2 separate regions of the Homo sapiens genome follow, and region 1 is reported to be linked to region 2. The links are microRNA targets in miRTarBase. Many come from high-throughput screens and were not tested one by one. Region 2 holds a microRNA gene; the other region holds the end of a gene's coding sequence.

The links. The annotated mature microRNA hsa-miR-323a-5p reads AGGUGGUCCGUGGCGCGUUCGC and lies in region 2 at 6,458-6,479, shown strand. An mRNA with a match to its seed (bases 2 to 7 or 8) in the 3' UTR can be bound and repressed. Matches are read on the target gene's strand: a 7mer-m8 pairs with bases 2 to 8, a 7mer-A1 pairs with bases 2 to 7 and ends in A, and an 8mer does both.
Region 1: the mRNA of SPINDOC is a reported target of hsa-miR-323a-5p. The part of its 3' UTR that is shown has no 7-base or 8-base seed match.

Annotation. Positions count from the first base shown.
Region 1 is chr11:63,823,367-63,838,363 of GRCh38, reverse strand. It overlaps SPINDOC (spindlin interactor and repressor of chromatin binding), which reads right to left. Exons shown (of 6, transcript NM_138471.3): 6 at 10,648-11,436. The coding sequence ends at 11,225. It also overlaps the pseudogene ATP5MGP1. Among named protein-coding and RNA genes, the nearest start is that of MARK2, 8.2 kb to the left of the region's middle. RefSeq lists enhancers at 1-568, 5,198-6,017 and a silencer at 6,826-7,043.
Region 2 is chr14:101,019,290-101,034,286 of GRCh38, forward strand. MIR323A (microRNA 323a) reads left to right here and starts at 6,443; the gene lies at 6,443-6,528. LOC124903407 (mucin-2-like) reads left to right here. Exons shown (of 5, transcript XM_047432049.1): 5 at 364-14,997. The coding sequence ends at 1,515. It overlaps MIR379 (microRNA 379), which reads left to right and starts at 2,777; the gene lies at 2,777-2,843. MIR411 (microRNA 411) reads left to right here and starts at 4,036; the gene lies at 4,036-4,131. It also overlaps MIR299, MIR380, MIR1197, MIR758, MIR329-1 and MIR329-2, and 4 more genes.

The sequences.
Region 1 (14,997 bases), not on the chromosome of region 2:
CTAGTCCGCAGGGCTCGGCAAGGCCCCAGGCAGGCCCAGGGCAGCGTCCTCTGCACCGGATGCGGGAGCGTCCAGGGCCCTGCATTTCAGCCCCAGCTCTGCCAAGTGCCAATGCTGCGTGATCTTGGAAAAATCACATAACATCACTGAGTTTAGGCTCCTCTTTCCTTTGCCTTTGCTCCTGCGTTGACATTCAAAATGACATTTCTGAATTCCAGTTACCTTTTAAAATGCCTCTGCAAGATAAGGCATTTAAAGTTTCTTTTCTTTCCTCCTCTGGGCCTCATTTTCCCCATCAGTAAAGTGAAGCCATTGGATTCATGAACTCGGAGGTCCTTCTCAGCTTTGGAGAGCCCTTGACTAACAGGAAGTCTGTATGGCAACTGCAGTCCATTCCTCACTTCCCCTTACACTGCGTTACCAAGGACAGGGAGTATCCTGGGCTGATTTCCCCAGCGCCAAGCTGTCCTCACCCATAGTACCTGGAACACGTTGGAACCACACCCTCCCATCAGTGGCTTAAGGTGGGCAGGAGGCAGAGGCCCCGCAGGAGTCAGAAACCAGACTCAGGCAACAGGTTCCCAAAGGTACAGGAGCAGAGAGGCTCCAGGAGTTATTGGGAAAACTGCTGATTGGACCCCTGCTACTTGACCTCCAACTCCCAGCTACAGCATCTTGAGCCAGCCTTCATCCCATCAATCAGAGAAATAGGCATCTGAGCAGATGTAATTACCAGGGTATGAAAGTACTTCCTAAGGCAACAGGTATCACTACACTCTTAGTAAATCCTGGGACTTCAGCACTGCTCCCCATGCCCCATACCAGCTCTATTCAGGCACCCAACCGTTGAGGAAGAAGGTGAAGGCACACCCATGAAGGTGAGGGAAAGAGAGAAGAGGAGGACAGAGAACACCTCACTCCCCAACCCAAATTCGATCCTTGAGAATCATCTGCCCTCTGGTGGCCAAAGGGAGACACGTTGCTGATTCCTGTGCCTGGTATCACCTCTAATGCCAGGGTCTGGAAAGCAGGGAAAAGAGAGAGGAAGCAGTTGGTGGTTGGTGTTCCAGCAGTCTCTCCCTGGTCCACACTCTCGTCTAAATAGACTCCATCTTCTCCAAGCTTCTCACTCTAGCTCTAACCCCTGCCTCACCCCTGCCCTTTGACCTTCATCCCCAACCCCTACCCTACCTATCCTTTCTCTTCCTTGCTAGCTTTGCACAAGGCTGCTGAGCTTGTCTCCCCGCCTAGACTCCCTCCAACCTACTGCACCAGACATGTCAGAATAATCTTCCCAAAGTCCAGCTCCAATAACATCTCTGCTCTGCTAGAAAGCTATCACCAGCTCCCTCACTGGTTATAGGCAGGGCTGGCTTCTTGGGCCCACGACCCCATGCAGTCACACAGAGCCCTGTGCTCAGGTGGACCCTGAGCTTGGATTAATGCTCTGCTGTCACCATCTTGAAATTTTTTTTTTTAAGACTGAATCTCGCTCTATCTCCCAGGCTGGAGTGCAGTGGTGCGATCTCAGCTCACTGCAACCTCCACCTCCCAGGTTCAAGTGATTCTCATGCCTCAGCCTCCTGAATAGCTGGGATTATAGGTGCCCACCACCACACCCGGCTAATTTTTTGTGTTTTTAGTAAAGACAGGGTTTCACCATGTTGGCCAGTTTGGTCTAGAACTCCCAACCTCAAGTGATCCACCTGCCTCGGCCTCCCAAAGTGCTGGGATTACAGGCGTGAGCCACCACGCCCGGCCCATTATCTTGAAATTTTTGACCAAGGGGGCCATGCATTTCCATTTTGCACTGTGCCCCACAAATTATGTAGCTGGTCCTGGCTGTAGGAAAAGCCTTTAGCCTGCATTTAAAACTTTGCTCAATCTGGCCTCACATTGCCTTACAATAACCTCTCCAACTATCACTGATCACACTTCTCCCTAACTCCTACCCCGCTGCCAGTCTCTCTCACTTCCATGCCTTTGGTCAAGCTGATAGATGATTGCCCATCATCCACCTCAGCTTCCAGAACCACTTCAAGATCCAGTTCAAATCTCACCTACTCAAATCCATGAACCCTCCTAGTTCTCCTCAAAGATGAATTATTGCCACACATTTACCCCCTCTCTAAATCTGCAAATTCATTTATTCATTCAGCAAATCCCTACTGAGCACCTACTATGTGCAAGGCATTGTTTTAGGCTTTTAGGTAGATCAGTGAACAAGATAAAGATCTCTGCCTGCCAGGCGCGGTGGCTCATGCCTGTAATCCCAGCACTTTGGGAGACCAAGGTGAGGGGATCATGTGAGGTCAGGAGTTCGAGACCAGCCTGGCCAACATGGTGGAACCCCGTCTCTACTAAAAAAAGCACACAAAAAATTAGCCAGGCACGGTGGTGGGCGTCTGTAATCCCAGCTACTTGGGAGGTGGAGTCGGGAGAATCGCTTGAAACCAGGAGGCAGAGGTTGCAGTGAGCCGAGATCACCACGCCACTGCACTCCAGCTTGGGCAACAAGAGAGAAACTCTGTCTCAAAACAAAACAAAACAAAACAAAAAAAAAACAACTCTGCCCTTGGGGAGCTTACTTTTCATTTTGAGGAAGACATACAACAAACAAAAGAGTCAGTATTAAGTGATATCAGAAAAAAACAGAGCCAGTTAAGCCAGGATTACAGGGGTGAGAGGGTGGAAGACAAGCTACAGTACTGAGGGGGTTCATGAGCCCTCACTGAGAAGGTGACACTTGAGTAAAATCTTGAAGGAGACCGGGCGTGGTGACTCACACCTGTAATCGCAGCACTTTGGGAGGCTAAGAAAAAAAAAAGACTTGAAGGAGGTGAAGGCATGAGCTCTGCAGACATCTAGGGGAAGAGGAACCCAGCCAGAGGAGCATACCTGGCCTGTTTGAAGAGCAAGGGGCCAATGAGCCTGGAGCAGAGTGAGTGAGGAGGTAGGTGTGTGGCGACGGGAACCAGGCCTGGTGGGCTACCGTTGTGGTTTTCCCTGGGAGTGGGATGAGTTGCCGCCGGAGTAACATGATCTAACTGGCTGCTGGGCTGAGAACAGAGTGAAAGGGCATGACAGAAGCAGACCCGGGGCACTAGCAAGGAGGCTTTTACAACAATTCAAGGGAGAGATGCCAGTGGCTTGGGGCCAGGCAGCAGCAGTGGAAGTAGTGAGAAGTGATCAGATTTGGGACATATTTGAAAGGTACAGCCAACAGGCTTTCGGATGGGTTGGGGTTATGAAAGAGGGGAGTTAAAGACGATTGCAGGCTTTCCCGCCTGAACAACTGAAAACAAAACACACACAGAGAGTAAAACTGCCGGGAGGTGTTGGCATTCAGCGGGCCCTTCGGGGCGACAGACTTTCCATCCTAGAACCATGACCTGATTTGTCCACCACCTCGCCAGAGAAGGCCCTGGTACTGGTGAACGCTGCTGTGACTCAGTTGAAGCCTTGATTGGCCACATTTCAGTACTACGCCGAGGTGGAGTTGGTTCCTCCAAACCCTGCTGAGATCCCTAGAGTTATTCAGGGCCTGGAAAAAAAAGTCAATAGCGCTCAAACTGGTAGCTTCAAACAGCTCACAGTCAAGGAAGCTGTGTTGAATGTTTCAGAGGTCACTGGGGTGTGGATGTGGTTTTATGTCACAGAGATCATAGGTGAGTGTGGCATCACTGGCTACAATGTTTGAAGATCCATCTTTAACATTTGATTTATATTTGATTTATGATTTGACTGTTCTTAGACCATATGTGATCAGACTACTATCTGAATAAAATGTGTCAAAAATTTTAAATTTAAAAACATTTCAAATTTTAAATTTATTTATTTACGTATTTATATATTTATTTTTTTGAGATGGAGTCTCCCTCTGTCTCCAGGCTGGAGTGCAGTGGTGCAATCTTAGCTCACTGCAACCTCCACCTCCAGGATTCAAGAGATTCTTCTGCCTCAGCCTCCTGAGTAGCTGGGACCACAGGCGTGCGCCACCACGCCTGGCCAATTTTTGTATTTTTAGTAGAGACGGGGTTTAATCATATTGGCCAGGCTGGTCTCAAACTCCTGACCTCATGATCTGCCCACCTCGGCCTCCCAAAGTGCTGGGATTACAGGCGTGAGCCATGGCACCTAGCCCTTTTCTTAAAAAAATTAAGGCCTGACCCGGCATGGTGACTCATGCCTATAATCTCTGCACTTTGAGAGGCTGAGGTGGGTGAATGAATTGCTTGAGCTAAAGAGTTCGAGAGCAGTCTGGGCAACATGGCAAACCCCCGTCTCTACAAAAAATACAAAAAATTTGCCAGTAGTCCCAGGTACTCAGGAGGCTGAGGTAGGAGGATTATACCTGAGCCTGGGAGGTCGAGGCTGCAGTGAGCTATGATCACACCACTGCACTCCAGCCTGGGCAACAGAGTGAGACCCTGTCTCTAAATATTAATAAATAAATAAAATAAAAGCCAGGTGTGATGGCTCACGCCTGTAATCCCAGCACTTTGGGAGGCCAAATTTGGTGGGGGGCATCCCTTGAGTCCAGGAGTTTGAGACCAGCCTGGGCAACATAGGGAGACCCCTGTTAGCTAGGCATGGTGGCACAACTGTAGTCCCAGCTACTTGGGAGGCTGAGGTGGGAGGATCACTTGAACCCAGGAGGTTGAGGTTGCAGTGAGCTATGATTGCACTACTGCACTCTAGCCTGGGCAACAGAGTAAGACCCCCTTTTCCCTTTTGTTTCTTTTTTCTTATTTTCTTTTTCCTTTTCTTTTCTTTTTAGATGGAGTCTTGCTCTTTCGCCCAGGCTGGAGTGCAGTGGCACCATCTCCACTCACTGCAACCTCTGCCTCTTGGGTTCAGGTGATTCTCCTGCCTCAGCCTCCCAAGCTGGCATTACAGGCGCCTGCCACCATGCCCAGCTAAGTTTTGTATTTTTAGTAGAGATGGGGTTTCACCATGTTGGCCAGGCTGGTCTTGAACTCCTGACCTCAGGTGATCCGCCTCCCCTTGGCCTCCCAAGATGCTGGGATTACAGGCGTGAGCCACCATGCCTGGCCAGAGCTGTTCCTTTACTAGCTCTGGAATGGCAGGCAAGTCACTGCATTCATCTCACTGTACCTCAGTTTCCTCACCTGTATAATGGGCACAATATGAGGTGATCTGTGATGAAGCCAGGGTAGGTGTCCTGTCTGTACCCCATAGTTTCTAACAGTGCCTGCCCATGGGGTCCTTCACTGATGCTTGTGTGATCTAAGCAACACAGGGTGGTTACCCCATCTCCCATCACACACCTGCTTTTCCTGCTTCCTCTGCCCACCCCCACCAGATGTGGGGCTGGAGGAGATCCAAGCCATTGACATTGGTGTTGGGAACCCAAAGGCTGGCTCCTCTTCCTTCCTGGACGCTGGTACATTTGTCCTGAGAATGAGGGTGTTCTCTCTAGGGGAGAAAGGGACTGAGCAAATTTGGTGGCATGATGGCTCTGGGCTGAGGCACCTGGCTCCAGGGAGGTAGGAAGGCAGACACCCCAGGAGGTGTTGCAGTCCCTTCCCTGTCCCTGCACCTGCAAGCAGCCTCAGTAGGGTGCCCCCCTCCCAAGAGACTCCGATGGCAGAGAGGGTCTGCAAGCCCATTAGAGACCCTCTCCCATCCCAGCCCCCATCTTCTACCACACCTTAGGGGTGTGCAGGATTTTACAGTTTACAAAGGGCCCCAAATGCAGAGTCTCATTTGAGCCACACAGCAGCCCAGCTGTGTGTGGGGTGGAGGTGGGGGTGACTGCCGCATTTTCTGCAGAGAAACAGGAAGCTCAGATTGCAGGAGCATCTGCTAGAAAGCCTCAAGGCCTGGACCAGACCAGTGCCACCACTGGGGTGCGGCAGGGGCCCAGCCAGTGTCCCCCATTCCCATTCACACTCCCACATGCTCCAGTTTCTCTTCAAGGAGGGCAGGGGTGACTGTTCCCTTGTCTCAGACTGGCTTTGTCCCCAAGAAAGAGAGGATTACCAGCATTGTGATATAAAAAGACATATATATCGGCCAGGCTTGGTGGCTCACACTTGTAATCCCAGCACTTTGGGAGGCCGAGGCGGGTGGATCACCTGAGGTCAGGAATTCAAGACCAGCCTTGGCAACACAGTGAAACCCCATCTCTACTAAAAATACAAAAAATTAGCTGGGCATGGTGGTGGCAAGCACCTGTAATCCCAGCTACTTGGGAGGCTGAGGCGGGAGAATTGCTTGAACCCTGGAGGTGGAGGTTGCAGTGAGCCGAGATTGTGCCACTGCAATCCAGCCTGGGCCTCAAGAGCGAGACCCTGTCTCAAAAAAAAAAAAAAAAAAAAAAAAAAAAAAAAGACACCTGGGCGCAGGTGGCTCACGCCTGTAATCCCAGAACTATGGGAGGCCGAGGCAGGAGTTATCACGAGGTCAGGAGTTCGAGACCAGTCTGGCCAAGAGAACAGCCTGGCCAATATGGTGAAACCCCCCCACCCCCGTCTCTACTAAAAATACAAAAATTAGCTGGGCGTGGTGGTAGGTGCCTGTAATCCCAGCTACTCAGGAAGCTGAAGCAGGAGAATCACTGGAACCCAGGAGGTGGAGCTTGCAGTGAGCCAAAGATCATGCCATTGCACTCCAGCGTGGGCGACAGAGCAAGATTACGACTCAAAAAGAAAAAAAAGAGACATATATATCTGGTCTTCATCCGGGTTTCTGGTCCAGAACTAAAACTCTTGGAATTTCCTGAGTGATGGGGAGAGAGGAGCATCTTTTGTTATTCATAATGAGTCTCTTTTCACCACACCTGAGTTCACGCTAATGAGATGACTCTTGGAGGATGGGGCTGGTGGCCAGAGAAACCAACCACGTGATTAGGGGATTGCAACTTTCATCCCTACCCAAGACCTTGGGGAGGGAAGAGGGGCTGGAGATTGAGCCAATCACCAGTGGCCAATGATTTAATCAATCGTGCCTAATGAAGCCTCTATAAAAACCCTAAATAATGGGGTTTGGGAGGTTCCAGGTCAGGGACAGCACCCCATCCACATGCCAGGAGGGTGGCTCACTCCAACTCCACTAGGACAGAAGCTCCTGTGCTTGGAACCCTTCTGAACCTCGCCCTCAGTACCTCATCACCTGTTTGTTTATATCCTATGTAACATCCTTTATAAACAAGTAAATGTAAGTAAATGTTTCCCTAATTTTTTTTTTTTTTTGACAGGGTCTCATTCTGTCACCCAGGTTGGAGGGCAATGGCGTGATCTCTGCTCACTGCAACTTCCACCTCCTGACTTGAAGTGATTCTCCTGCCTCAGCTTCTAGAGTAGCTGGGATTACAGGTACCCGCAACCACGCCCAGCTAATTGTTGTATTTTCAGTAGAGACGGGGTTTTGCCATGTTGGCCAGGCTGGTCTCGAACTCCTGATCTCAGTTGATCCACCCGCCTCGGCCTCCCACAGTGCTGGGATTACAGGCGTAAGTCACCGCGCCCGGCCTGTTTCTGTGATTTTTGTGAGCCATTACAGCAAATTATCAAAACTGAGGAGGGGGTTGTGGGAACTTCCAAATTTGGGCTGGTCAGAAGTACAGGTGACAAGCTGGGACCTAGAACTGGTATCTGAAGCAGGGGCAGTCTGCTGGGACTGAGCCCTTCACCTGCAGGGACCGTGCTAACTCTGGGTAGTGAGTGTCAGAACTGAATTTTAGAACAGCTGGCTGGTGTCTGGAGAGTCGGAGAATTGATGTGGGCGCCCCCCTCCCCACTAACATTGGTGTCAGAAGTACTGGGAATGTAGAAAGTTTTTCCTTGTTAGGTATCCAAAAAGATCTCCCACACCTGGATCCCATGGAAGGCAGCTGGGAGGGCAGGAGGTGGCTGGCTTCAGAGAGCCAAGGAGGTCTGGGAAGTCAGGAAATGGGTGTGTGGCTCAGCAGTCAGGGGCAGCGGCACCCTCTTCCCCAACTTCTTCAACCAAACACATGGTTGGGCCACAGCACCACATGGATGAAGGTGCCACCACCAGCCCTGAGAGTCACCGACATTCGTGCAGAGCTTCCCTGGTGTTGCACCAGGATGCAGGACCAGCGTCACGGACTCCAAGCCGGTGTGGAGTAGGAAAGCCCTGGGCAATCCGTCAGTAAGGTCCTTCCAGCCTGGGCTGGAGTCATATCCTCAGCCCCACTTTCTCCAACTCTTTCCTGGAAGCCCAGAGGTGCCACACACAGCTGCTGGCCACACACACTCACATAGTCCCCAGGGCCCTGGCTGAGGCTGGGGAGACCCCTATTGGCCACAATGTGGGGATGAAGTTCCCACCCTGCACAGTCACTGTAGCAACCACCCTGTGCTGAGAACCACACTCCAGGGACCAACATGCACTAGAAAAATGTCACACAGGAATACACACTCAGAGGGCACTCGAGAAACATTTATTGAGCACCTACTATGTGCCAGGCCCCAGGCAGGACACTTGGAAAACAAAGTCAATACAACCTGGTCCCTGCCCAGGAGCTCACAGTCTAGAAGGCCAAGCCATTAATCATAGAACAGCAAAGGGGCATTTGGCTTCACAATTTTACAACAAACTTTTACATACGTTTTCTCAAGTGTAAACACCCAGCAACACAGCCATGTTGTTTTAAAAGCACATTGGCATAAATGTAAACACAAGTCACAGGATTGAAAGGATGAGAGAAAACCATTTGCAGTATTTGTGCTTGCAGAACCAGATTTTTAGCATTATTTATTCCCTCCTATCAGGTAGGATACAAGTTTTGCCAATCTGTGGATAATGGTGTTTGAGACATGGGAGTTCCGTGGCCGGCCTGCCTGCCTGCCATCATGCAGTGGGGGAGCCACACTAGATACAAGGCATCCTGAAGCCTTGGCCACTGCCTTCTGTCCACCACACCTGTCTTTTAATGTCCCCTAGACAAAGACCCTGTATATTTCTAGGCTCCTCCTGAGCTTATCAGATGGGGAGAAGGGATCATGTCCCAGGAGCCCACCAAGTCGTGAGATCCCTCATACCTGGCTTGGCACATGGTGACACCCCATCAGGTGAGCACACAGCACACGCTGCCCAGGCCCAGACCCTGCCTGCCCGAGATGAACTTCCTGGTTAGTCTCAAAATCTGGCAGTGTTGGCCGGGCACAGTGGCTCACGCCTGTAATCCCAGCACTTTGCGAGGTCGAGGTGGGTGGATCACCTGAGGTCAGGAGTTTGAGACCAGCCTGGCCAACATGACGAAAACCCCATCTCTACCAAAAAATACAAAAATTAGCCAGGCATGGTGGTGCACGCCTGTAATCCCAGCTACTCGGGAGGCTGAGGCAGGAGAATCGCTTGAACCTGGGAAGCAGAGGTTGCAGTGAGCCAAGATCGCAGCCTGGGTGACAGAGCAAGACTCCAACTCAAAAAAAAAAAAAAAAATGTGCCAATGTCAGCGTCCTACAGGAATAGCTGCCCTCCAAGTCCCACCTGTGCCCCCACTTCTCCTATGTGCACATTTGTCAGCATGTGCAGAGGTATACAGTCCTGCTTACCACACCTGCCATGGGCTCTAAACAGGACAGTACAGCTGGGGTTTGAGAAGGGGCTGCCTGTGTGCTCCATCTCACCAAAGGGAAAACCACGCACAGATCTGGCCCCTGTTGGTTTAGTTTAGGAAGGTAAGGAATCCGGTGAAGAGACCAAAAGTGGCCTCCTCATGATCCAGGGAATAGGGGAAACCAGCAAGTGTTTGGGTTTAATTAAGCCAAGGGTTGGGGGGGATGAAGGTGGACAGCTGAGGGTGCAGGCCTGTAGGGCTGGAAAAGGCGGGGCTGAGTTTAGGACCCCTGTGCCCCTCACCATCATACGGAAAGGGAGGAGAGGCATCTTTCTACCTGCAAGCTGGTTACCGCCATTTCACTTTAGAAAGCTCAGGATAAGCCGGGCGTGGTGGCTCACGCCTGTAATCCCAGCACTTTGGGAGGCTGAGGCAGGTGGGTCGCCCGAGGTCAGGAGTTCGAGGCCAGCCTGACCATCATAGTGAAACTCTGTCTCTACTAAAAATACAAAAAATTAGCTGGGCATGGGCATGGTGGTGGGTGCCTGTAATCCCAGCTACTAGGGAGGCTGAGGCAGGAGAATCACTTGAACCCAGGAGGTGGAGGTTGCAGTGAGCCGAGATCGCGCCACTGCACTCCAGCCTGGGCAGCAAGAATGAAACTCTGTCTCAAAAAAAAAAAAAAAAAAAAAAAAAGAAGAAAAGAAAAAGCAAGCAAGCAAGCAAGCAAGCTCAGGCTAATTCCCAGCTCCCTGGTTGTGAGCACCCCTGGGCTTCTACAGTGACCTCTTTTGGGCAGAGGCCTACCAGGTGAGCCAGAAGGTACAATGTTAAAGAAAATTGTTTCTGACCCCCTTTCCAGAGCAGAGAGGAAGGGAGGGGGTGAGACGCCCACAGGTGACTGATAGCACAAGTCAGCCCTCGTTCCTGGGCTCCACAGAGGCCTGCCCTGGTGCTGTCCCACCTTCAGGAGAGGTGGCTCCCTGGCTCCCCCCAGGACCATCTTCCAACCCTCCTGCCCCTCAGGGTTGCTCTAGGTGGCCAGGTATCCTGCTAGCAAACCCTCTCCCCCAATGATGGCCCAGACGGAACTCTTAATAAAAAAAAATAATTTATTGTCAACAAAGGTGATATATACAACAGGAAAACAGATGTAAATGAGAACGGGAGTGAATGGGGTGCCCAGGCCCAGCTTCAGGCCTCTGCAGGGGTGGGACAGGAAGAGGTAATGGAGGCCTCCTGGTTTAGAAGCCTGAACAAGTGGGGAGGAGAGGTGTCCCCCGAGGTAGTGGGACTCAGTTCAAACCCCCTTATGACCACTCTTGTGTAAGGCACTGTGCCAAGGGAGAATGGTGGGGAGCAGGGGGAGGGTGGGAGGAGGTCATGGGGGACAAACAGAGGTGGGGGTCAGCGAAGGACTGGGGTAGGTGTTCTCCACAGGCCCAGTGCCCTACTGCACAACAGCCTCAGCCACCCTCGCCGACCTCAGGCCTGGCCAGGAACAGACACTTTCCAGTGCCCCGAAATAACAGTGGATGCTGCCCCAGCCCCCTCCTGCCCTGGCACCTGTTTCTACTCTCTCCACCAGGTGGGTGAGCCAGGCAGCTCTGAGTTATAAGCCACTGGGGGACGCTGCCTCATCCCTCCCTCCCTCCCCAGGAAAGCAAGAATTTACACTCCATTCCCTTTTTCCGGCTTCCCTGCCACAGTGGTGCTGGATTCTGACAGAACTGTGGGCCAGTCTGAGGTGTCACCTGCTCCCACACGCTTGGTGCCCTGGGGGTGCCTGGACCAGTCTTGCAGGAGGCTGACCGCTGGGGGCTCCTCCATCCGCACGCGGATAACCTGGAGATCCAGTGTCCCGCGGAGCCCCGGAGGGGGAGCTGGGCAGGGATGAGAGCAGAGAGCAGTCAGAGCCCCCCAGACACCCCACCACGAGGATGCCCCCTGGAAGCTCCGCAAACTGTACCCACATTTCCAGGGCTTTCATTATGTCCACAGCCCAGTGCCTGGCATGAGGGGAAGCCCAAGGATGGCAGGGAGCTCCACTCCTGGGTGATCGAGGACTGCTGCCAGCTAGAAAATGAGGCGCACAGCCTCCCTAGGGACAAGCCAGCTGAAGCCAGGCAGCCTTCCTCCTGTGTGTATTTTGGCACAGGGACGCCTGGTGCTCGTGCCTCTTCCTGTAACTCCTACCTGCAGCCAACTCCATTTTATCTCAAACTTACTGGGCATCCTAGCCTAACGGGTTCTGCCTGAGTGGGGCAGAGGTGATGGGGTGGGAACACCCAGAAGCAGTCTAAGGCATAGCTGTGCCCACCAAGGAGCTCATGAGGGACTACGTGGGGGACAGAAAAGACCCCTGGCGAACTTCCACCAGGCTCTTTATCTCCTGAGTGTCAACACCTACATCACCAAGACCAGGTGTCCACCTTACCAGTATGGAGAAGGCACTCATAATGGGCAAAGCTGGGCCTCGAGGCAGAGGAAAGAGGACTGAGGACTGCCGTGGCTGCGTGCAGCCATAAAAAACGAGCACGCAACAGGGACGTGTGCAAAGGTTACGTTACATTAGGGCTGGGCATGATGGCTCATGCCTGTAATCCCAGCACTTTGGGAGGCCAGGGTGAGCAGATCACTTGAGGTCAGGAGTTTGAGACCAGCCTGGCTAACATGGAGAACCCCTTTACTAAAATACAAAGAAATTAGGCAGGCATAGTGGTGCACCCCTCTAATCCCAGCTACTCAGGAGGCTGAGGCGGGAGAGTCGCGTGAACCTGGGAGGTGGAGGTTGCAGTGAGCCAAGATCACGCCACTGCACTCCAGCCTGGGCAATAGAGTGAGACTGTCTCAAAAAAAAAAAAAGTTACATTACATTGAAAGGCAAAAACAGAAGATGGTGATTTCAACTACTGCACTGTCTATATTGGGAAGGATTTATTTGTGTGTGTTCCTTTTCTACCCTGTTTTTAGAGACACGATTATTTAAAATGTGGCACAGAAAACAGGTACAATTTTGCTGTGCGATGTGCTGGAATTTAAAATGACTTAGTGGCTGCCACCCCATTTTTATCACCTACCAAATGCTATTCTGTGTTCCCAGAACACAGTTTGTCTCCCTGATAAACTATAGGCTCCCTGAAGGAACACTGAACCCCATTTGTTCATTAATTTGACAATAATTTATTGAGTACTATATGCCCAATGCCGTTTGGATTGCTAGGGGTACAGCGGTGAATGGAGCTCCCTAAGTGGCCTTCTGGGACTTCACATTCTATTTATCAGAGCTAATAAATAGGATAAACAAATAAAAAATGCAGTATGTTATATATGGACAGATGCAAAGTAGCAAAGTACACCAGGGAAAGGAGATAGGATAATAGGATAGCAGAAAGCTGACAGGGGACCACAGACACAGAGGGAGTGAGGAGCCAGTGAGGCAGACAGGGAGGGAACAGCATTTTGAGCAGAGGGAGGAGCAAATGTGGATGCCCTGGTGGAGCACGCTGGCTTCCCCAGGAACAGCAAGGCCAGTGCCTGTGCGGGGAGCGGGATGTGGGGGGAGAGGTCAGGAGCCTGTGGGGAGCTCACTAGTCACCATGAAGGCTCTGGCTTTTATCTGGAGTGCAACAGGAGCAGCACAGAAAGGCCATGAGTAGAGGAGTGACTGGATCTGACTTGTGTTCTCAGCAGGGACACTCTGGCTGCTACAGGAGAGCAGAGCATAGCGGGCAAAGCTCAGCAGCCAGGAGACCTGGCTTAGGTTTGTTACAGGAACCAGGCGAGAGCCGGCCCTGACTAGGGTAGCAGCAGTGGATGTGGTGACAGCAGTGTGAGCTCTGAACTTGTTTTGGAGGATCGGCTGCTGGACAGATGCTGGGCTGGAGAAAGAAGAGGATGACTGTGTGGGTGTGGTCACAGCAAACTGAAGCCTGGGGCTGCCTGTTCACTGGGAAAGGGAAGATTGTGGAGTCTAGGGGTAGGGTGCATTGGTGAGACTGGGGGTTCAGTTTCAATGTGGCGAGTTTGAGATTTTTTTTTTTTTTTGAGATGGAGTCTCGCTCTGTCGCCAGGCTGGAGTGCGGTGGCACAATGTTTGAGATCTTTTAGACACCCATGTAGAGACGCCACCTGGGCAACTGGAAAAGAGGATGGAACCAGGAAGGAGCAGCCAAGGTGGGCATTATGAGCACACACATGTCATTGAAAGCTGTGAACCTGGATGAGATCTCCCAGGGAGCGAGTACCGACACTGACCCACGGCTGCGGATACTTAAGCACGTACTCATTCACCAAACACATAAGCCGGGCCTACGCTGTGCCAGGCACTGTTCTGGTTACCGCAGATATTATAGTGCAGGACGCAAACACCCTAACCTGCAGGCCCTTACATTCTAGAAAGGGAAAGGCAGACAATGATACGACGTGTTCCAACTCTGGGAGCTGAGAGTGAGCGGCAAGAGAAACTGAGAAGGAACAGTTAGTGAGGGAAGAGGAACACCAGGCGAGCAGCTGCCTGAAAAGCCAAGGGAAGAAAGTTGTCTCCAGGAAGGAGTGAGTGATCAGCCCACCGTAACCACGAGATCATAAAGAGAAGGACCGGCCAGGTGCAGTGGCTCATGCCTGTAATCCCAGCACTTTGGGAGGCCGAGGTGGGCGGATCACCCGAGGTCAGGAGTTTGAGACTAGCCTGGCCAATAGGGTGAGACGCCATCTCTACTAATAATACAAAAAAATTAGCCAGGCGTGGTGGCGCACGCCTGTAATCCCAGCTACTCAGGAGGCTGAGGAAGGAGAATCGCTTGAACTTGGGAGGCGGAGGTTGCAGTGAGCCAAGATTGCACCACTGCACTCCAGCCTGGGCGACAAGAGCAAAACTCCATCTCCAAAAAAAAAAAAGAAAAAGAAAAACAGGCCAGGTGCAGTGGCTCACGCCTGTAATCCCAGCATTTTGGGAGGTTGAGGCGGGCAGATCACGAGGTCAGGAGATCGAGACCATCCTGGCTAACACAGTGAAACCCCGTCTCTACTAAAAATACAAAAAATTAGCCAGGTGTGGTGGTGGGCGCCTGTAGTCCCAGCTCCTTGGGAGGCTGAGGCAGAAGAATGGTGTGAACCTGGGAGGAGGCGGAGCTTGCAGTGAGCCAAGATCACGCCACTGCACTCCAGCCTGGGCGACAGAGCGAGACTCCATCTCCAAAATAAAAAAAAGAAAAACACCAGCAAGACAGAGAGGCTCCTCTTTCCATTACTTGTCAGTGGGTCATTGTGGCCCACCTCCTCTCCTGGCCTGCACACTCTCCCCATCCTCCTCTGGCAAGGTCCTCAGAAGGTTCTAGAGTCTTCCTGGACTACCTCACATTCACATTCATCAGCTCAGCTAACCTGACCACAGGTGGCCTTTTCCAACTGTTAAATCCACGATTTTTACACCTCTAATTTTT
Region 2 (14,997 bases):
TCTTTGGGGTTCTGTACTCTTTCTTCCTGCTCCTACTCCCAGCAACATCAGCCAGAGATTTCACATCAGCCAGAGAAATCTTGTAAAAATAGGAAGCTCGCGATGTCCTTTATCAGCTAATAATGGCTTCCCCTTAGCCTGAAGAGAAGTCGGAATTTTACCTTTGTTTTAAGGTCCTGAATGATCTGGTGCCACCCAGATCCTCAGACTCACTTCTGGCACATTTCTGGCTCCCCACGCTCAATTCACATGGATACTCTTTCGGTTGCAATGCTCCATCCAGACCACACTCCATCCAGTTCATACTCAATCCAGTCTACGCCCCATCCAGTCCACACCCCATCCAGTCCACACCCCATCTAGACCACACCCCATCTAGACCACACCCCATCTAGTCCACACCCCATCCAGGCCACACTCCATCCAGTCCACACCCCATCTAGACCACACCCCATCCAGTCCACACTGCACACAGTCCATGCCCCATCCAGACCACACCCCATCCAGTCCACACTGCATCCAGTCCATTCCCTGTCCAGACCACACCCCATCCAGTCCACACCCCATCCAGACCACACACCATCTAGTCCATGCCCCATCCAGACCACACACCATCTAGTCCATGCCCCATCCAGACCACACACCATCCAGACCACTACTCCATCCAGTCCTCACTGCATCCAGACCTCAGTCCATCTATCTAGTCCACACCTCACCCAGACCAATCTCCATCCAGTCCACACTCCATCCAGTCCACACCCCATCAAGATCACTACTCCATCCAGTCCACACTCCATCCTGTCTACACCCCATCCAGTCCACACCCCGTCCAGTCCACACCCTGTCCAGTACACACCCCATCCAGTCCACACCCCATCCAGACCACACCCCATCCAGTACACACCCCATCCAGTACACACCCCTTCTAGTCTACACTCCATCCAGACCACACCCCATTCAGTCCACGTTGCATCCAGTCCACACCCCATCCAGACCACACCTCACCCAGACCACACCCCATCCAGTCCACACCCCATCCAGTCCACACCCCATCCAGACCACACTGTATCCAGTCCACGCCCCATACAGACCATACCCCATCCAGACCACACCTCACCCAGACCATCCACGCCCCATCCAGACCATACCCCATCCAGACCACACCTCACCCAGACCACACCCCATCCAGTCACACTGCATCCAGTCCACACCCCATCCAGACCACTACTCCATCCAGACCACACCCCATGTAGTTCACACTCCCCCAAGTCAACACCCCATCCAGTCCATGTTCCATCCAGTTCATGCCCCACACAGACCACGCTCCATCCAATCCACGCCCCACCTCGACCACTACTCCATCCAGTTCATACTGCATCCAGTCCATACTCCATCCAGTCCACTGTCCACCCCGACCATGTTCATCTGACCCATGCTCCATCCAGTCCATGCTCCATCTGGTCCTCTGCTTTTACCCTACAGTGTCCACTCTTGTCCTCTCTCTTCTTGGCTTAGTCCCCTCATCCTTTATCTTCTAATCTAAACTTCTGAGAAGTTTTCCTGATTGGCGAGAGCCTCTTGTTAAATGCTCTCTGCTCCTTCACAACACTTTGGCCTCCTCACATTTTGAAACCAATTCTCTGCAATAACTACTTTAATGTTGGTTTTCCCCACAACGCTAGCAGCTGCAGGAAGGCAGAGACTGTGTCTTATTTACTGGTCTAGCTCCAGCACCTCACAGATGTTCAGTAAACACAAGTTTATTTCTACGAGTGACCACATGGAAAATGTGAGTGGGCTGGAGGAGAGGTGCAGGCAGGGTGCTGTGGAGGGTCAGGGATGCAAAGGCCTGAGTTGGCTGAGGTGGGGTCGGGCTCGTGGAAGAACTGCCATTTGGTTGGGCTTCAGAGAGATGTAAGCAGACACGGGGTCTGGGTGGAGGAGTAGTGCCAGCAAAGGCATGTGGACAATGCACGGGGTATGGAGGGTAATCTCTTAGACTAGACTAGCTCACACTTGGAGGGAGCAGGGGAGCATGATGCCTTGAATGACTTCCTAAGGAGTTAGGACTTCAACAACTGAGTTGCAGGGCCCCGTCTACACTGGGGTTCAGGACTTTAGAGGACAACCGAGCTGTCCTGCAGGGCTGCTGAGGGTTCTGCCCTTGTCCTTTCCCTGGAGGCTAACAAATCATTGCTTTGCATTCCATTCACATGGGATAGTTGTGCCATGAAAGGGGATGGAGAAAATCAAGGAAGACCTCCTGAAGGAGGTGGAGAGGTTAATCAGGAGCTGGAGGAACGCACTGCCCACTCAGCTCTGTGGTTTGAGTCTCCAAAGGTGGTCTAGAGCATGGCGAGGACCATCGGAACTTGGGTGAGCTAGGGAAGTTTTTACCTAGAGGTTGAGGGTCCCCTTTTATATGATGAACTGTGCTCTTGGAGTGTCCCATTTGCCATGCAGAACAAAACACTGCCCTTTATCTTGATGAAGAGATAGTTGACCACATAATGGCCAAAGCATGGTCAGTATTGTACATTTTGCCTTGTCGCAGTCTTTCCAAGTTGACATGGCCTTCCTGGAGGAATTACCACTTAGGGTAGAGGCACCCCTTCCCCCATCAATGCCACTGCCCCACATTGGAGGAGGGGTTGTTTATGTTCACCATGTGCCTGCTTCCAATGCCAAATCCAGCCTCAGAAAGCTTTCTGGAAGTGACGCCAACTTCAGGGGCAAGGCCCTGGTTCTGGGGTCAGCACCATTCCGTGGTTCCTGAAGAGATGGTAGACTATGGAACGTAGGCGTTATGATTTCTGACCTATGTAACATGGTCCACTAACTCTCAGTATCCAATCCATCCTCGGAGGGCTTCCTGGAGGTGTTGCCAACTTCAGGGAAGAGAACACGTGGTTTAGCTTCAGCACTGCTCCACGGCAATTTCTGTGGCTCATGGTTGATGTCTGACTTGTGCAACAAGGCCTGGCTCTTCTGGGCACTAAATGCACTCTCTGGGGAGTTTTCTGGAAGTGATGCAACTTGGGCTCAAGACACCGGTTCCAGCCTCAGCCGTGGTTCTGGAAGAGATGATTTGCCATGTGGCCTGTGCGAAAGGAGGGATTTGTGTGAGATGGGCTACCACTTCCCAGTAGCCTGCCAGCTTTGGAGGGCTTCGTGGAGCCAATACTACCTTCAGGGGGACCCACCAGTCCATCCTTCATTCCGCTGTGTGGCATTGAAGAGTTGCTTTCCTGTGTTGAAGTTTTCTGTTTATACCAATGTCCACCTCTGATCAATCTTACATTCAGTCTCAGGGTTTTCCGGAGGCAGTGCCAAGTCTGGGAATGAGACAGTGGTTCTGTCCTTAGGGAGGTGGTTGACCAAAACAACTCCTGCTTTGTTCATGAAGATGGCATGGTGGTTACTGCTCAGAATCTAATCCAACCTAAGAGGACCTCCTGGAAATGCCCTTGGTATTGAGGCAGATATGGCCTTAGGGCACTTTTTTTTTTTTTTTAATGCCCAAGACTAGAGCTCACTAATAGGTAAGATCTGGGCCTCAGGTGCCCAGTACTGTTTCCTTGGCCTGGTTAGTGTAACTAGATGGATGTTCTTTGGTTGCACGTGGGCCATTTTGTATTTCTGATTTTCTCCCCACTCCCCTAACCAGCTCTGTTAGCCATGTGCCATGTCCTCCCTCCCATCTACCCACTCCTTCAGACCCAGCACAGTGCGCCTGGCACACAGCAGGCACTTAATCAGTATTTATGGAGTGATGAAATCCATATCATCGTCCACTTCTTCTCAGTGGGACTTTCGGCCTCGAAGGGCTTCCTGGAGGAGTTGCCAGTTTTGGGGATGAGCCACTGCTTCGAGCATTCATGTCAACCCCCGACCATGAAGACGAGACTCCTGGCCTGTGTGTGCTTGTCGCATGATGCATGTGCTGTGCTCAACCTCCCTTCTGGTTCCACCCAGCTCAAGGCCTTGGAGGGCTTTCTGGATGTGTCCTGAGCCTTTGTCCTCGGCATCTCTGTGTGGTACTTGGAGAGATAGTAGACCGTATAGCGTACGCTTTATCTGTGACGTATGTAACACGGTCCACTAACCCTCAGTATCAAATCCATCCCCGAGGCTCCTGGAAACAACGCTGTCTTCGGGGAGGAACGGTTGGACCCACCACCACTTCTCCATGACACCCGAAGAGATGATTTTCTGTATGGCATGTGTTTTTCTGCATGATGCAAAATGGCATAATCTCGCTCCTCTTAAATCAAGTTCTGCCTTGGGAAATCGCGCCATCCCTGGGGAGGAGACCTTGATTCTTCCCGGAATCAGTGCCATTCCATGGTGCTCAATGACGTGGTTGACTACGCTACGCTTATTCAGTAGACACCGTGACCTGCTTCTTCTCAGCGTCAAATGCAGCCTAGAAGAAGCGCCCTCAGGCAACTTCGTGGACATGAGCCTTCTTCCAGCCACCACCACCACCATCGTGCGGTACTTGAAGAAATGGTTTACCGTCCCACATACATTTTGAATATGTATGTGGGATGGTAAACCGCTTCTTGGTATCCAGCCCAGCCATCCAAACCTCCCTGGAGAAAGCCTGGAGTTAGAGGAGAGCCACGGGTCTCGGCATCCGCCATGCCATGGCACTTGGTGGAATGGTAGACTCTTAGATGTGTGCTTTCTCTGTCAATGCTTGTGATGCGGTCTTCTCCTCAGTGCCAAACACAGCCTCCAGTGACTTCCTCAGGACAAGGATGACCTCCAGGAAGGTGTCCTACTGCCCACGTTGGCACATCCCTCTGGAGTAATTGAAGAAACGGTGGCTGGTGCCGCAAATGTTCATGAACGAGGGATGTGAAACAGGTCACCTCTCATCCTCAGAGCCCTCCTCAGATGACTTCAGGACAGTACGCCCATGTAGGAGCAGATATGGGTCCAGGAGATGATGCCACTCCAGGTACTTGAAGACGCACTGACTCGTTTTTGTCTTTGCTGATGCGTGTACAGTCTATCTTTTTTCCATCTCAAGTCTAGCCATCTCGGGGGAAGATGTCCCAGCTCTGGACTCAGCACTGATCCTCATGAAGAGCTGCTCGACCCCATCGTGTATGTTTACAGAGGAAGTGCCTCCATGGCCCACTTCTTCCCTATCTCCATCCCAGAACCCTTGCTTGGAGAACTTGCTGAAGAAGCTGCCAGCCTCAGGGACAGAGCACTGGTTCTGGCCTCTTCACTGACCTCACGGTACCTGAAAAGGGTTCAGCCACACTGCATGTCTTTTCCCCATGACGTATGTAACATGGTCTACTTCTTTTGAAGTATCCCATTCAGCCTGGAAAGTCTCCAGGGAGGTTATGTTAAGCTTAGGAGACAAAGCACCAGTTCTGGTACAAGTACTGCCTCGGGGTACTTAGTAGAAGTTGGCCATGCTTCATATGTTTTACTTACAACGCATGTTACTTCGTCCACCTTCCTATAACAGCGTGCACCTCGGGGGGCTTTCTGTAGGCAGGAACGAGTGTCAGTCATAGCACTAGTTCCAGCATCATCTCCATTCTTGAGGGGCTCCTTTGTGCTGCGTCCACTGCATCTGCGGCAGACATTGCATGGTGGCCTCTTCTCAATACTACATCAGGCCTCAGAGGGCTTCCTGGAGGTGATGCTAGTGAGAGGAAAGAGACACCGGCTCTGACCTCAGCCCTCTCCAAGGTACCTGAAAAGATGGTTGACCATAGAACATGCGCTATCTCTGTGTCGTATGTAATATGGTCCACATCTTCTCAATATCAAATTCAGTCATAGAGGGCTTCCCAGAGAGAGGCAAAGTCACCTTCGTGGGAGACACACTGATCTGGCTTCAGCGCCATTCCACAGTACTTGGAGAGATGGTAGAGCATAAAGCATATGCATTGTTGAATGACAGATGTAGCATGGTCCACTCATTCTCAGTATCAGCCAGCCCTGGGGCTTCCCGGAGGCCATGCCGACTTGAGAGCCAGGCCTGAGTGGTAGCCAGGGTGCAGTGCAGGTCACCGGGTGGTTGGCTGCAGACCCAGTCCTTTATTTATTACATTGGCCATTTGGTCCACCAGCCAAGAACTCAGTACCGGTCCCACCCTTACAGGGCATCCTGGAGGTGGTAGTGGCATTGGATGTGGGTTTGTGGTCATTGCCACATTGCCGGTGGCTGGTAGTTCATGATGCGCATTGTGAGGCTTTCTGGAGGTGATAGCAGGTGAAAGGAAGAGAGCCAGGGGTCAGCGTCACTTCCTGGTATTTGAAGATGCGGTTGACCATGGTGTGTACGCTTTATTTGTGACGTAGGACACATGGTCTACTTCTTCTCAATATCACATCTCGCCTTGGAAGACTTCCAGGAGGTGATATCAGCTTTGCGGAAGAGCCACTGTCCTGGTGTCAGTACGGCTGCTGCTTGGTACTTGGAGAGAGGTGGTCCGTGGCGCGTTCGCTTTATTTATGGCGCACATTACACGGTCGACCTCTTTGCAGTATCTAATCCCGCCTTGCAAGCTTTCCTGGAGCTAACATCAACTGCGGGGGTGGGGGCCACTAGGTCTGCGCTCAGTGTGACCCAGCGGGGTTTGTGATGTGTTTGTCTTGTGTGTGACGATAACTCACGTGTGGCAGCCTTCTTCTCAGCACACTGCTCTGGCTTGGCAGCAGGGTTAACTTGCGGACAAGGAGCGTGGTGTCAGCACGTGCCTGGATACATGAGATGGTTGACCAGAGAGCACACGCTTTATTTGTGCCGTTTGTGACCTGGTCCACTAACCCTCAGTATCTAATGCCCCCTTGGAGAACTTCCTGGAAGAGGTGTCAACTTTTTGGGAAAGAGACAGTAAACTGGGGCCAGCTGCACTCTGTTAGACTCTGAAGAGAGCATCTGCGAGGCGTTTGCGACATGTATGCCAAATGTGGCTGAGTTGGACTGATTTTCACTCCGATCTCTTTCCTTGGAGGGCTTCCTAGATGTGGAGGCATCCAAGTTCAAGGGAAGGGGCATGCTGTCTATACCATCCCAAAGTCCTCCAGTGATCAGCTGACCTGAGTGTATGCACTTTAATTTACAACCAAGGTCGCCTGGCCCGTCACACCTCAGTCTCCACTGGGTCCTTAGCAGGACCTTTGGTGGAGTCAGCCTTGCTTTGGGGCATCTGTGCCTCTCTTGAGTAACTGAGAAAAGATGGCCCTGGAGGTTAACCCTAAACGCGATAGCTGCTGTGACCAGCCTTTTTATGGCATCACCACCTCTGGCTGTGATGTCAACTTCCAGACGTGATGTGGGGTCTGCTCCACTGGGGTACTTGGATAGATGGTTGGCAAGCAGCATGCATCCAACTCTTGGCTTCTTCCGGCAAATCAACTAACTAACGCTCAGTGTGCAATTCCATATTTAACAGGACTTCCAGCACTGAATGTCAAGTCTGGGGAAGAATCAGTGGTGTTCTTGTCAGTGTTAATCAGTGGTACCTGAAGAGAGGTTTTCTGGGTTTCTGTTTCTTTAATGAGGACGAAACACACCTGGTTAACCTCTTTTCCAGTATCAAATCCCATCTTGGAGGCCTTCTGGTCCAGACCTCAGCTTCAGGGAAGGGCGTTACTCTCAGCTCCAGTCCACTGGACAGAAATCTATGGTTAACCACGAAGCCTGTGCTGTATTATTTTGACTGATGTCATCTGTTCTACTAACCCCAGTGTCCAATCCGTATTTAACAGGACTTCCAGGACTGAATGTCAAGTTTGGGGAAGGAATCAGTGGTGTTCTTGTCAGTGTTACTTGGTGGTACCTGAAGAGAGGTTTTCTGGGTTTCTGTTTCTTTATTGAGGACGAAACACACCTGGTTAACCTCTTTTCCAGTATCAAATCCCATCTTGGAGGCCTTCTGGTCCAGACCTCAGCTTCAGGGAAGGGGTGCTGTGGACATAAATAAGGAGACACGAGCAAATGGCTGATCACTAAGCGTGCCCCATGTTTCTGAATTTTGCCACCGATTGCGCTAACCCTCAATGTCTTATCCCTTCTTAGGAGGACTTTTCAATGTGATGGCAGCCTGGGGGAAGACAGTGTCACCACGACAGTGTCACGGAACATGCAGGTGAGTTGTCTGTGGTTGCCTTCGTTGTGCTCCCAACGGATCGTGTGTGTAATTCAGGCTCTTTCGGCATCTGACCCTGCTGTAGGGGGATGCCTCGTCCTTGCCACACTCAGTGATGGGCTTGAATGAGCCCAGCCCACAGCAGGGGAATGCCAGCATGCCCTGGACAGATAGTGCAGGTGTCCTGCACGCCTGCCCCTAGCCTGCAGTTTATTCTGAAAGGATGTCCTGGATATAATGACACCTTAGGGAAGAAAAGCTGATTCTGAGGTCAAGAGGAGACCTTGGGGGCCCTGGAATTGGCCCAGGTTGAGACCTGTTTATTTCTCACAGGAATTGTGGAGTTGACTTCCTTTAAATCTGGAGGAATCCTTGATGTCATGCCAGCTTGAAGGGAGGGCATTGTCACCAGCCCTGATCCAGGGGAAGGGAGTGGATGGCCCACCACGGGGCATGTACCTCCCCAGGAACACACCTGCTCCACTGACCAGCACATCTGACCTACCCTCAGGGTTGTGTTTCTGCAGATGGTCCTTCTTTGGGGTGCTCAAGGAGAGGTTTCCTTTGGCATATCTGTTTCTTTTATATAAATCATTTCTGTGGACCACTCTTCAGTATCAAACACCAGTTTGGAAGGCTTCCGGATAAGACAGTTGTCAGGCCCAGGCCAGGGTGAGTGGGCCGAGATGGGTGCTTCCCCTGTTCTAAGCGTCCTGTCTGGCAGTAATGCTTGGTGCCCGATCCTTTCCAGGAGGACTTCCTGGAGGTGATGCCAGCCTCTGGGGAAGGAAAAGGCTCCCTGCCAGCTCTAAAGCCAAGGCACAGAAGTAGGTTTTGCTGGTGCTGCATTTGTTTTGATGGCACTTAGCTGTGACTGTGGGTCCTCGGCTCATCTGTGGCATTTGGGGATGGGACTGTGAGGGAGGAGGGCCTCAGGTTCTGGAGAAGGGCCAGGTATTTCCATGTCAACCCTGCTTTTTATAACCAGAGAGAACATATGAGGTAGCACCAATGACCTCCGCCACCAATCCTTCCTATTAGCTGATACCCAAACACCGTTCCTTCCAGCCGAAAAGAGCCCTCATAAAGAGAGGGCAGAGAGAGTGTGTCAAGGCCATGTGACAGCAGGCAGTATGCTGTTGCCTCCGGGGTATCCAGGGTAGGCGGCTGCTGGGTCCATGTAGATTGGGTGCTCTGCTGGCTACGGAGGGGTCAAAGGACAGGTGGCAAGGGTGCAGAGCCGCAGCCTGGCCCTGGGATTTTCTTCTCAGACCTCTGCTCCGGGGTCCACCTTCGGGGGAAAAGAGGGCACAATTTTACAACTTTGTAAGAGGAAACCTGAAGTTTTCTGACCCCTGATTCTCCCCAGCCCTGTCAGGATTGATCTAACTCTCTGTTGAGATGCAAAAGAGTCTGGAGATAACAGTACTCCCCCCACCATGAAAACAATTATTGTCAAAGGAGTTTTATAGCAAACAGAAAATCCGGCCCAGAATTGGCTAAAACATTTGGGGAGCTCACATCAGGAAATGAGATTCGTTTTTATTTCTTGATTCTGCTGAATTGGATTGAAGGCAGCAGAAGGCATTAAGTGGGATTTGACCTGGAGGAAGGTGGCCTGGCGGTGCTCCTGGCTTCCCCGACCCTCCCTCCCTAGCCGTGTGTAGCAGGCACTCACTTTGCTTACAGCTTCCTCGGTGCCATGTATCTGTTTTTGGAATCACACCTTGCCTGGAAGGCTGCTTGGACCCATGGCCAGTGCCACACAGGGGCCTGGGCACCGGCTAACTGCAGACCCAGCCACCTGCTTCTTGACCACAGAATTCGAGATTTACTCATGAGCTCTCTTGACGCACTGACTTTGGGATGCAAACCATTATGACTAGGGGCACTTCCCGTGGCCTGGACTTCCACAAGGAAACCCTGGTTCCACCGTCAGGAAAGCTCCAATACCTGGAAAGAGGTTGTACCTAAAGTGTTCTCTGTATTGGCGGAAAATGTTTCCCGGGCAACCTCTTTTCATTGTGAAGGCTTGAAGAGCTTTTGGCTGACTTCCCAAAAGCAACCTGGGACACGCAAATAGAAGCCATCTGACGTCTGGTCTACCCAGTGCCATGTAGATTCGGGGAATCTTCCTGGAGGTGACACCAACATCGGCGAAGATTCGGCAGTTCTGTTTTGATTTTTTTTGTTTGTTTTTTGATCAGTGCTAATCTTCGATACTCGAAGGAGAGGTTGTCCGTGTTGTCTTCTCTTTATTTATGATGAAACATACACGGGAAACCTCTTTTTTAGTATCAAATCCCACCCTGGAGGCACTTCCTGTTCCTGATGCAGCCTTCAGGGAGGGACGTTGCCGGCTCCACTCTCGGTAGGCGCAAGCGAGGCTGACAGCGTGCCATGCGTCGTGGGGGTGTGGCTCTCAGGCCCCAGCCATGGAGGGCCCCTAGGAGGGGAAGCTGAGTTTGGAGAAGGGCCTGTGCTTCTGTGGTTGAAGGAGGTTGCTCATTGTGGTGTTTGTCTATTTGTTGATTCACGGTGGGTGGCGCCTCTTCAGTGTGAGATCTTGCTTGGATGGCCTTCTGGACACGCTAGCAACGTCATTGAAGGGACGATGGTGCCATCTGCTCTCCAGGGTAGCTGAGGGGATGGTAGACCGGTGACGTGCACTTCATTTACGATGTAGGTCACCCGTTTGACTATCCACCAGCGCCCGGTCCATCTGTGGGATGACATCTTGGTGCACATGGCAACTTCGGAGAAGATGTGGGAGGACGTGGGGCCCGTGGGACTCTGCAGGATTTTAGGAGGGGTTTCCCTTCGGGGCCCCCTCCTCCTACCTCGTTAAAATCAATATAAGCAATCATCAGTGAATAATCTCTCTTTTGGTTTCAAATCCTGCCCAGGAGGGCTGATAGTCTGGCCACAGACAATGCCAGGATTGCAGAGGCCTGGGCTTCAGTGCCCCATCAGGGAAAGTCCCACCCCACACCACATGCTGACTGCAGGAGGTGTGTGTGTGACCTGGTACAGGGGTGTGGTTTATCCTCGGAAGGGTTTGAGGAGTGTTGTGTGTGTGCAGGACAGGGCAGGCGTTGGGACAGCTGTGGTAGTGAGGGCCACTTTATTCTGTGCTACATGAAGAGAGGCTGTCTGACAAAGCTTGCCATGTGTTTGATGAATGCTACGTGGCCCATCTCTTTTCCATAGGAGGACTTCCTGGACATGAAGCTAGATTCCGGCAGGGCCACTGGTGTCAGCAGCACTCCTGGTGAGTCGTGGATGGGGGACTGAGGAGCTGGCAGCGTGATTGAGATGAGCCCTTCCTGTGTTGGGACCACTCAGAATCCAGCCGCTTCGTGGGCAGCGTTCAGTCCATGCTTGGGGAAAGGGCTTTGTTGCCGTTGCTCATCTCTGTCTGTTGTTCAGCTCTGCTTGCCTTACGAGGCCCCAGATGCCCTGGATGCCCTCAGTGTCAGACTGCGGAAGATGTGTCCCGGCTGTGACACGCGCTTCAGGGGAGGGCTGTTGGCGTCAGGTCCATGGAGAGGTATGGGAGTGGACATCTTGTCTGAGAGCAGACATTCTATTTCGGGTGTGTGTCTTGGTCCGTTCATCCTCAGTCTCCCTCCCATACCTAGGATGGCTTGTGGAGAGAAGGCCTGCCCTGAGGGCTGAAGTTGGGACCCACAGCTCTCACCCCGGCCTTGGTATGCTCCCATGGCTACGGCAGAGGCACAAGAAAGTAATTAGAAACGCAGAAACTCCTTAAGGCCAAGGCTGGGAACTGCTATATTTCTACCCACAGATCATTGACCAGAACAATTACACGGCCGAACCCAAGGCAAGGGGCGGGGAGGCCCACTCCACCCGGGAGGGGGTTGTGGTGAGGTGTGAATGCAGGAACCGGTGAGGATTTGCCACCACCAAGTCAGTTGTCCACGTGGACCACCTGAGAACTTGGGTTTTATTCATTGCTCATTCATCCCTCCCTAACCCGCAGCTTCCGGTCTGCCCCGGGGGCTCTTCTCCGGCTCAGGCTGATCGACAGTGGTGACGCTGTGCCAGGACCCCTGGTCATTCCATCTGTTTGAGGCAAATGTTAAAAAATCCCTTGCGCTACCCATTCTATGACGACTCCCTTGGCTCAGAGGCTCCATCAGGGCAGACACTTTGCTGTTTGTCCCTAAAGGGTGGGTGGTAGATCTCATCCATCTTATCTGGGGAGTTATTGTGACTCTCCTGGTCCCTCCTCATGTATCCTCAGGAGGACTTTTAGGATGCAAAATCACTGTTTCTGTGCCATTGTCATATTCTGTGCTACTGGAGGAGACTTTTTGTTATTGAGAAATTGAACACATCGTGCTCACAAGCAGCTCCAGGACACAATGCCACCTGTGCAGAGGGGGCAGACCTGTTAGATGTCTCCCAGGTCTTGAGGGGGTTGTATGCACGGCCATATCTTTGTCACCGGTTGCCCGGTGCGCATCAGGACCCATGTGCTCTCAGGAAGCCCGCAGGAGTGATACCAGCCGCGGAGAAGCAGTGTTGTCAACGGTGCTGACGTGCGGTACTTAATGAGAAGTTGCCCGTGTTTTTTTCGCTTTATTTGTGACGAAACATTCGCGGTGCACTTCTTTTTCAGTATCCTATTCTGCCTTGAAGACGTCTTGGTTTGGGTGCAACTTCAGGGAAGGCACATGGGCCCCTGTAGTGGACGCTGATCAGGACCTCCCTACCCCATGTCTTTTCTCCTTCCTAAATTTCTCCTTGTTTTTTTTTTTTTTTTTTTTTTTTATGAAAGCTCCCGTCTTCCCGCCGTGTGCTTTGATTGCATTGACCCTGCCCCACTTCCTCCACCAGCCCAGGCTTAAGCGAATCTCTTGATCTCTTCTCCTTTGCCACTGCAATTGCTTCCGGAATAGGCCCATGACCCCACTGGGCCAGTGATAGGCAAGGAGATGCTTGCTGCAGCTTCTGGGAAAGAAACTGTTTCTCCCTTTCCTGTGATAGCTGCCAGAGTAGACACTGTCTATTCCATTCAGCTGGGAATAGACAGTGAACTTTGACGTGAGCTTCGAAGGTCCCACAGCCGTTTAAGGACTGAGAGGAGAGGGCTTGGTGCCACGCAGACACAGCAGAGGGAGTCTGTACCATGAAAGGCATCTTGGAGACCTAGAGAAGAGCCTGGATGATATCATTTGAGTCCCTAGATCAAACCCTGCCTGAAGCTTGCTCTGTCTCTGTACTTTTTAGTTATATACGTCTATAAATCCCTTACTTGTTTAAGCCAGTTGGAGTTAGATCTTATCTTACTTGCAATACAAACAGATGATACCACAGTGTGTTTTCCAGTGTGACTGGGAAAGCCTGCATTTTTTTCAATGATGTGTTTCTCACGGTTTGCCTATCTATCTTCAGTGTCCTATTTAAGGCAGGGTTTTGGTGGAAGGTGACTTTTCTTATGGACTTATGCTTTCAAAGCTTTGTCTTAGTGATTTAATTTATGGTTGACAAATGATGCACAATTACCGTGTTTTGTGTCCAGCAATGGGTCACTGGGTCCTCTCTGGAAGGCCTGATGGATGGTGGGCCCCAGAACTTCTGCCCCGATTCACTCTCCCTCGAATCCACCTCTCTCTGGGAGGCTGCCCTGCAAGTGATGTGGACTTGGGGAAGCCGTTGTCCTTTCCTGGCCCCTGCTGTCCTTTGGCTCTCTGTGGGTTGGCTGTATTTGTCACAACTCACACTTAACTGTCAGTGTTTTAGAACCAAGCCATGCCTCCAGGGAACCCGGAGCACTTTAGAGAGGAGGTGCAGTGGTCAGCACCATGCAAGGTGCACAGAGAGATGGGTCCACCGAGAGCCGGGGCTGCCTTGGTGGTTTGTTTCTCCTGATTCGATATCTTTGTCTTCCCATCTCCTTCCTGGAACCATGGGCTCATGGAGGAGATTCTATTTTTGGGTCCAGGACCATCCCATTTTCTCTGAAGTGATGCTCTCCATGAGCATTTGCAGGGTTGATAGTAAACATTCCGAAAGCCGTCTGCCCTGATTATTGAATTCTGCCCATGAAGACTTCCTGGGATCCCGAAGTAGAGGGAGTCTGGGATCGGTTTGCTTTATCCGTGATGACTGTCCGCCTCTGCTCAGTGTCAGCCCAGCCCTTCGAAGCATGTCCCCCACCTCCCCTGGGGTGAGCCAACTTACCTGATGCTTTTAGGCTTAATTGAGCATAAGTTTGATTGGCAGCGTCTGCCCGGCCCTGCCCTCACGCCCTGACCCTCAGTGTCCCTTCACGCCCAGGTGTGCCTCTGGCAGGGAGGACGTGCTCATCTCTGGTACCTGAAAAGAAGTTGCCCATGTTATTTTCGCTTTATATGTGACGAAACAAACATGGTGCACTTCTTTTTCGGTATCAAATATCTCCTTGAAGTGCCTCCATCCCCGACGGGACCCTGAGCATGGGACCTGGTGTCACTACCTCTCTTGGTATGTACATGGAGGATTTGTCCTGGCAGCCCCTCGGTGACTTTGTGTGTTGGTGGGCTCAGGGACCATGCTCAGTCCTCAGTCCTCAGTCCACGCCCACCTCTCGGACAGGCACAGTTGGCGAGGCCTCAACCACATGCCAGTTCCCCGCTGCCAGGGAGGCTGGGGAGATGCACTTCCAGGCTCCATTGAGAAGCGTTCCCCAACATTTGAGAAGAGTTCAGATCATAGCAGCCAAGAAAAAAATAAAAAAGGAAGCAGCTGCCACAACAACAAAAACAAATAAGCAATGAAGACCCCTGCCCCCATCCGCTCTCTCCAGAGGCTTGAGGGGATGGCTGAAGGGGACATGAGGACATGCCATCTGGGGGACTGCCAC